2 linked regions of the Homo sapiens genome follow. The protein of the gene in region 2 purifies or fractionates together with the protein of the main gene of each other region. This does not show direct contact. Each region holds a gene or a part of one and is shown on either strand. Other genes may lie near its edges.

Evidence for each region. Proteins that work in one complex are often made in the same cells at the same time.
Region 1: the proteins of PHF13 (region 2) and DNASE1L2 purify together in Homo sapiens (affinity purification with mass spectrometry; 3 studies listed by BioGRID and IntAct, with this or other methods). This does not show direct contact.

The regions. Positions count from the first base shown.
Region 1 is NC_000016.10:2,234,995-2,239,211, forward strand, and holds DNASE1L2 (deoxyribonuclease-1-like 2 precursor), read left to right. Parts: upstream 1-1,449; 5' UTR 1,450-1,566; exon of another isoform or gene 1,567-1,783; 5' UTR 1,784-1,822; coding exon 1,823-1,966; intron 1,967-2,043; coding exon 2,044-2,132; intron 2,133-2,223; coding exon 2,224-2,307; intron 2,308-2,381; coding exon 2,382-2,655; intron 2,656-2,772; coding exon 2,773-3,024; intron 3,025-3,367; coding exon 3,368-3,424; 3' UTR 3,425-3,717; downstream 3,718-4,217. Other genes in the region: transcription factor E4F1, read left to right, coding at 1-7, 87-149, 222-578. UniProt on the Homo sapiens protein: Divalent cation-dependent acid DNA endonuclease involved in the breakdown of the nucleus during corneocyte formation of epidermal keratinocytes.
Region 2 is NC_000001.11:6,616,731-6,620,230, forward strand, and holds part of PHF13 (PHD finger protein 13), read left to right. Parts: intron 1-26; coding exon 27-128; intron 129-3,072; coding exon 3,073-3,500. UniProt on the Homo sapiens protein: Modulates chromatin structure and DNA damage response by regulating key determinants of chromatin compaction and DNA damage response.

The DNA of each region.
Region 1 (4,217 bases), on a different chromosome or scaffold from region 2:
CATCGAGGTGGGTGTGGGGCCCTGGGGCCGTGCTGGGACCCAGGGGCAGCCAAGGCTGACCTCTGTCCTTCTGCCCATCTGCCCAGGCCACTGCGGACGATGCGGAGACCAGTGAGGCCACGGAGATCATCGAGGGCACCCAGACAGAGGTGAGGGGTAGGGCAGGCGGGGGCGGGGAGGCTCCCTGGCACAGCCGCTCTTGCTGAGCCGTGGCCCTGCAGGTGGACAGCCACATCATGAAGGTGGTGCAGCAGATCGTGCACCAGGCTAGCGCCGGCCACCAGATCATCGTGCAGAACGTCACCATGGACGAGGAGACGGCGCTGGGCCCAGAGGCGGCTGCCGCCGACACCATCACCATCGCCACCCCCGAGAGCCTGACAGAGCAGGTGGCCATGACGCTGGCCTCGGCCATCAGCGAGGGCACTGTGCTTGCCGCCCGGGCAGGGACAAGTGGCACTGAACAGGCCACTGTGACCATGGTGTCATCAGAGGACATCGAGATCCTGGAGCATGCAGGCGAGCTGGTCATCGCCTCGCCGGAGGGCCAGCTGGAGGTGCAGACGGTCATCGTCTAGCATGAGGTCTGCGGGGTCCTGGCCGGGCAGGGACAGGGCAGAGGACTCTGAGCGCCCCACCCATGCCTGCCTGGCCTGGTAGAGAAGATGGCACAGGATGGAGGCGCCCCAAGACGGACAGTGTACATAAGAGTTTCTTGTTGCTTTACAATAAAACATGAGAACCTGCAGCTTGTGATGTTGTGGCAGTGGCAGCCTCCGCGGCTGGTGCCACCACCTTTGCCCAGGCCCCCGCAGCAGCACCTGCCTCCCAGGCCACTCCTAGACTCACGTGCCTGGCCGCCCCACCCAGGGGCTTCTGCCAGCCCTGGCGGCGCCTTGGTGCTGTGTGGGTGTCATTGGCATGTTGACCAACAGCCTCCTGCCCTGCCCAGCTGGAGCTGTGCCCCCAGCTGCGCTGCCTGAGGCCTGTGGGTGGGTGGGAGGACCAGGGACGGGGACAGGGAGATCTGGGAGCCTCGGCCTCCACCGCAGGGTGAGCAGGTGGAGCAGCAGCAGGAGATGCTGGGTAGGGAGTGTGGCTGGTCCTACCTGCGCTGCCTTGCTTTCCCTGAAGGGATTCTGCTCAGGGAGGCAGAGTCTAGGCGACCTAATTTCTAGGGGCGAGGACAAGAACACAGCCGCACCGGGATGTGGCTGACCGTCTACCTCCCTCCTAGGGGGCTGGCAGGGGCTTCTGGGACGGTTTTGGGACAGGTCTGGGGCACCAGAACCGGCTCAGGCAGGTCTCCCACCCCTTACCCTGGGGGTCTCCATGGGAATGAAAGCCAGGAGTTCATCAGGCACCCAGCTGAGTCGAGGGGGCGGGACCCAGTGCAGCCCGGCCCCTCCCTGGCCCAGGACCTCAAATACCGGCCCCTGCCTTGGTGCCAGAGCTACTGCCAGAGGGAGTCAGTGCAGTCCTGTGTCGGACACGCCCGCAGCCTGGACCCGGGATCCCCATCCCCCTAGGATCTCTGAGCCTCGGGCCTCTGCACCCACATCCAAGGTGAGTCTCTCGGCTGCCCTGAGCTGGGGCTGGATGGGCCGGACCCTCCATTCCGGCTGCAGCTTCCCGCGCAGTGAGAAGGCAGCGGTCCCTGAGAGCCCAGCAGTGCCCTGGGAGCCTGCAGAACGCAGGGGCGGATTCCGCGTCGCACTGGCCGTCAAGGGGCGGCCGCGGAGGGAAGGGGTGGGTCGGTGGGTCTGACAGCGGGTCTGCGTAGGCGGCAGCGTCTGTCCCTCCCAGCCTCTCGCTCCGCGCCATGGGCGGGCCCCGGGCTCTGCTGGCCGCACTCTGGGCGCTGGAAGCCGCCGGGACCGCCGCGCTTCGCATCGGAGCCTTCAACATTCAGAGCTTCGGTGACAGCAAAGTGTCGGACCCCGCTTGCGGCAGCATCATCGCGAAGGTGGGGCCCGGGCCGGGGCGGGGCGGCGTTTAGGGGTGCTGACCGCGCTGACCCCCGCACCCGCCGCTCCTCCCCAGATCCTGGCTGGCTATGACCTCGCGCTGGTGCAGGAGGTGCGAGACCCAGACCTCAGCGCCGTGTCCGCGCTCATGGAGCAGATCAACAGGTGTGGTGGGCAGGGCCCCTCGTCGCGACCCCCCGCCGGGATCTCGCCCCGGCGCGGCGCCCCGACCCTGAGCGGGCCCCTGTCTCCGCAGCGTGTCCGAGCACGAGTACAGCTTTGTGAGCAGCCAGCCCCTGGGCCGGGACCAGTACAAGGAGATGTACCTGTTCGTGTACAGGTGAGGGGCGGGCCGCAGGGAGGGGCGCGCGGGGCCGCAGGTCGGGGGCTCAGCGGGTCCTCCCCATCTCCTAGGAAAGACGCGGTGTCGGTCGTGGACACCTACCTGTACCCAGACCCCGAGGACGTCTTCAGCCGCGAGCCCTTCGTGGTCAAGTTCTCGGCCCCCGGCACCGGTGAGCGGGCCCCGCCCCTCCCCTCCCGCCGAGCTCTGACGCCCCCACCCCTTCCCGCAGCAGCACAGAACCTGGTGCTGATCCCGCTGCACGCGGCGCCGCATCAAGCCGTGGCGGAGATCGACGCGCTCTACGACGTGTACCTGGACGTGATCGACAAGTGGGGCACCGACGTAAGCCCACCCCTCGGTCCCGGGGTCCCTGCAGGCGCGCCCCGGGGGTCTGGTTCATGAGGGCGGGACCTCGACGGCTCCTGCGGCGGCTCAGACACGGCTCCGCGGCGCCCGCAGGACATGCTGTTCCTGGGCGACTTCAACGCCGACTGCAGCTATGTGCGGGCGCAGGACTGGGCCGCCATCCGTCTGAGGAGCAGTGAGGTCTTCAAGTGGCTCATCCCTGACAGCGCCGACACCACGGTGGGCAACTCAGACTGCGCCTACGACCGCATTGTGGCCTGTGGCGCCCGCCTGCGCCGGAGCCTGAAGCCCCAGTCGGCCACCGTGCACGACTTCCAGGAGGAATTCGGCCTGGACCAGACTCAGGCGAGTGGGCCGTGGGGCGGTGCTGGTCTTGGGTCCCCACCGCCCGGGCGCACGCAGGCAGCAGGGAGGGTCCAGCGCCCAAGGCAGGGCCACCTCAGCTTCCTCCCTGCACCAGGGCTCGTTTCCAAGGACCCTGGAGAGCCCGGCCCACCCCATGTGGAGCTCTGGGCAGGCAGGGTACCTTGCCTTTCCCTCAAAGGGCCAGTGGTGACACCCTCTGCCCCGGCCCCTGCCCCTGCCCCACCGCAGGCAGCAGCAGGGGTGGGCACCCAGGCCTCACCGGCCCCTCCCATCCCTGTGGGTGGGGTGCACTTTTCCCCTGAGGCTCACTCTGTCCCCACAGGCTCTTGCCATCAGCGACCACTTTCCAGTGGAGGTGACCCTCAAGTTCCACCGATGACTCGAGGCCTGGCTGGGGCATGCCACCTGCAGACCCTGGCTCTGAGGAATGGCCCAACAGTGGCCCCTTCAGGGTGGCAGCCACCCTTCAGTGAGGCCCCAAGGCAGAGTCGGCTGGGCGTGGACCAGGGGCCATGGACACGTGATGTGCTGCTCTGTACCTCCGTTCCCCATCTGTGGGACGGGCTGCATCCAGCGACCTCATGGGGTGTTGTGAGCCCCATGAGGGGTGCAGGGGGCACTGCCCGGCAGATGTCTGCTCAATAAATGAGCTGCTCCCGGTCGGGCCCCACAGCTTGGCTCCCAGGCCTCTGTCCTTCCTTAGGACCCAGCCTCAGCTCCTTAGGGGCAGCCATGGCCTGGGCTGCCCACCCCATGTCCTGGTGGGACGTGGCTGCCCCCGGAGCCTGCTGGCCCCAGAAGGCAGCTCAGGGATGCTCCTTGCTCATCCTCTGTGGAAACTACAAACACTCCCAGGAGCCTGTACTGTGAGCACAGCTGGGACAGGGATGGCGCCAACACACCAGCCTCCTGGGCCCTCGGGGCTCTCAGAACAGCTCTCCCCAGGCCCACCCCGCAGCCCCCATTCCAGGGCCCTGCAGGGGCCCCCAGGCACTTGTCTGTCTCAAGAGCCCGGTCTTACCCAGCACTGCAAGGGGAGGCCAGCCCCAGCTAGTCAGCAGCCCTGGAGCTTTTGGAGAGCCTGAGAGCAGTGGGCGGGCTGGACTCCTCCCTGCCCAGGCAGGTGGCTTGGGACTAAGGTCCCGTGCAAAGAACCGCCCAGCTCGCCGTGG
Region 2 (3,500 bases):
CATTCCCTTTTCTCTCCCCTTAATAGGAATACTCCCCCAGTTGCAAGAGGCGCAGGACCGTGGAAGACTTCAACAAATTCTGCACCTTTGTCTTGGCCTATGCTGGCTACATCCCTTATCCGAAGGAGGTAATCTTCTGAGTTTCTGAGACCTTTCTTGATGAGTAGTCAAACCCAGTGCCTCCACCGCAAGTTCGTGGGCTTCTGACTGGTCAGAGGGTCAGTAGGTTTGGAAGGGGCTGCTTGTGGTGACCCCAGTCACTAGTCTGGCAGAAATCTGTTTCTTGAGAGTTTGAATTAGCTGGGGAAATGGTTCTAAAACTCTGGTAAAAACTCTGGTAGAAAATGCAGGCTTGTCTAGAAAATGATTTAGTAAACTTTCTTTTTTTTTGGAATGGAAACTTGCTCTGTCGCCCAGGCTGGAGTGCAGTGTCGTAAAACTCCACCCCCGGGTTCAAGGGATTCTCCTGCCTCAACCTCCTCAGTAGTTGGGATGACAGGCGTGCGCCACCACGCTAATTCTTTTTTGTATTTTTGGTAGAGACAGGGTTTTACCTTGTTGGCCAGACTGGTCTCGAACTCCTGACCTCAGGTGATTCACCTGCCTCGGCCTCCCAGAGTGCTGGGATTACAGGCGTGAGCTACCGCCCAGCCGATTTAGTAAACTTTCAGTTTATTTACAAATAAAATATGTGATATTTGCTTGCTCTTTTTGTTTGTTTGTTTGAAATGGAGTCTGGCTCTGTCGCCCAGGCTGGAGTGCCGTGGTGCAATTGTGGCTCACTGCAACCTCTGCCTCCTGGGTTCAAGCGATTCTCCTGTCTCAGCCTCATGAGTAGCTGGGCGCGCCACCACACCCAGCTAGTTTTTTGTATTTTTACTAGAGACGGGGTTTCACCGTGTTGTCGAGGCTGGTCTCGAACTCCTGACCTCATGATCCACCCGCCTCGGCCTCCCAAAAGTGCTGGGATTACAAGCGTTGAGCCACTGCACCTGGCTGTCTGCTTGCTTTTAATAAGGGTCTGTAGTTACTGACTGTTGACCATAGCTGGACACTATTCTTGGCCTATGTAATGCTATGAGGTAGGTGCTATTTTTTATCTCCAGTTTATAAGCTGAGGAAACTAAGGCATAGAGAGGGAAAACTTTGTCTTAGGTCACCCACTGATTAGTGGTGGAGCTTGGGGTTCAACCAGATGGCTGGACTCAGTGCACACGCTGCCTCTGTCTCAGCTCCCTGGCTGCCCGAAATGCGTATGATTGTCTTCAGGGACTCATGGCTGCAACTTGATGTAGATGAAGGAGGTTTTTTCACTTGCTGAGAACAGGGCAGGACTGGAGGAGAGCGGCTGTGGTGCTCAGACTTCAGGCCTCTTTCGTATTCGATTAAGCTCAAAATTGAACAATCCAGCTTTTTTTTTTTTGCGACAGGTCTTGCTCTGTTGCCCAGGCTGGAGTGCAGTGGCACAGTCTTGGCTCACTGCAGCCTCTTTCTCCTGTGCTGAAGTGATCCTCCCACCTCAGCCTTCCAAGTAGCTGGGACTACAGGCCCACCACCACACCCACCTAATTTTTGTATTTTTAGTAGATACAAGGTTTCGCCATGTTGCCCAGGTTGGTGTCAAACTCCTGGCCTCAAGTGACCCACCTGCCTTGGCTTCCCAAAGTGCTAGGATTACAGGCGTGAGCCACTGCGTTTGGCCGTAATTTTATTTTTTGTAGAGACAAGGTCTCACTGTGTTGCTGAGGCTGGTCTCGAGGTAGTGATGCTCCTGCCTTGGTCTCCCAGAGTGCTGGGTTTACAGGCACGAGCCACTGTGCCCAGCTGCATTCAGTATATTTCTAGCAGGCAAACTGCCAGCATTGGTTTATTTCCATCTGCTACATAGGTGGCTAATGCCTGCTTTCTTTTCTTTCTTTTTTTCTTTTTTTGAGACGGAGTCTTGCTCTGTGGCTCAGGCTGGAGTGTGGTGGTGCGATCTCAGCTCACTGCAACTTCTGCCTCCTGGGTTCAAGCAATTCTCCCTGCTTCAGCCTCCCAAGTAGCTGGGATTACAGGTGTCAGCCATCATGCACAGCTAATTTTTTTGTATTTTTGGTAGAGAGGGGGTTTCACCATGTTGGCCAGGCTGGTGTCGAACTCCTGAGCTCAGGTGATCTACCCGCCTCAGCCTCCCAAAGTGCTGGGATTACAGGTGTGAGCCCCCGCACCCAGCCTAATGCCTGTTTTCTAGCAAGACAAGGAGGACGTTGCCACTGTTTGCAAATGATATGCTTGTGATCTGAATGAACCATAGAGTTTACTTCACTGCTTTGGGGCAGTAATTACCTACTTGGATTCTGCAATATTTTGGAATGTCTAGTTTTTTAAGAGTGTCAGGAAATTCTCAAAACTAATTTAAATTCACTTAAAACAATATATCTCTTGGGAGGGCAAATGGAAGGAGAGGTTTTACAATCAGGGAACAATGAGCAGATAGGAGTGGGTGTCCACAGCACTCCTTCCCACAGACACCTGTTGCACACTGATGAATTTTCTGTCTCTAAGATGGGGCTGAGGGTTCAGCAGGGAGTTTCTCTCTTCGTGGCATCACATTAAACTCATGGCACTGATGGCACTGGGTTTTTTTTTTTTTGAGACACAGAATCTCCCTCCCGTTACCAAGGCTGGAGTGCAGTGGCTCACTGCAACATTTGCCTCCCGGGTTCAAGCGATTCTCCTGCCTCAGCCTCCCAAGTAGCTGGGACTACAGGCACCACCACCACGCCCAGCTAATTTTTGTATTTTTAGTAGAGATGGGGTTTCACCATGTTGGCCAGGTTGGTCTTGAACTCCTGGTCTCAGGTGATCCGCCTGCCTTGGCGTCCCAGAGTGCTGGGATTACAGGTGTGAGCCACCACGCCCAGCCAGAACTCATGTTACTGTTGCTTCAAGTGTGATGCTGATGGGCAGAGAAGCTCAAAGTTGTGCAGATGTCTCTGGAGGTCTGACATGGCTGGGTGGCTGGGGATGCTCTGCTCTGGGCTGGATCTTGTCACCAGTAACTGGAATCTGCCACCTTTGTCTTTTTAGGAACTCCCTTTAAGGAGCAGCCCCAGCCCTGCTAACAGCACTGCTGGTACCATTGACAGCGACGGCTGGGACGCGGGTTTCTCAGACATCGCGTCCTCAGTGCCCTTGCCAGTCTCTGACCGCTGCTTTAGCCACCTGCAGCCTACTCTCTTGCAGCGAGCCAAGCCCAGTAACTTCCTGCTGGACAGAAAGAAAACGGACAAGCTGAAGAAGAAGAAGAAGAGGAAGCGCAGGGACAGTGATGCGCCTGGGAAAGAGGGGTACAGGGGGGGCTTGCTGAAGCTGGAAGCCGCTGACCCCTACGTGGAGACCCCCACGAGTCCCACCTTGCAGGATATCCCCCAGGCTCCCAGCGACCCCTGCTCGGGCTGGGACTCCGATACTCCCTCGAGTGGATCTTGTGCCACTGTGTCACCTGATCAGGTCAA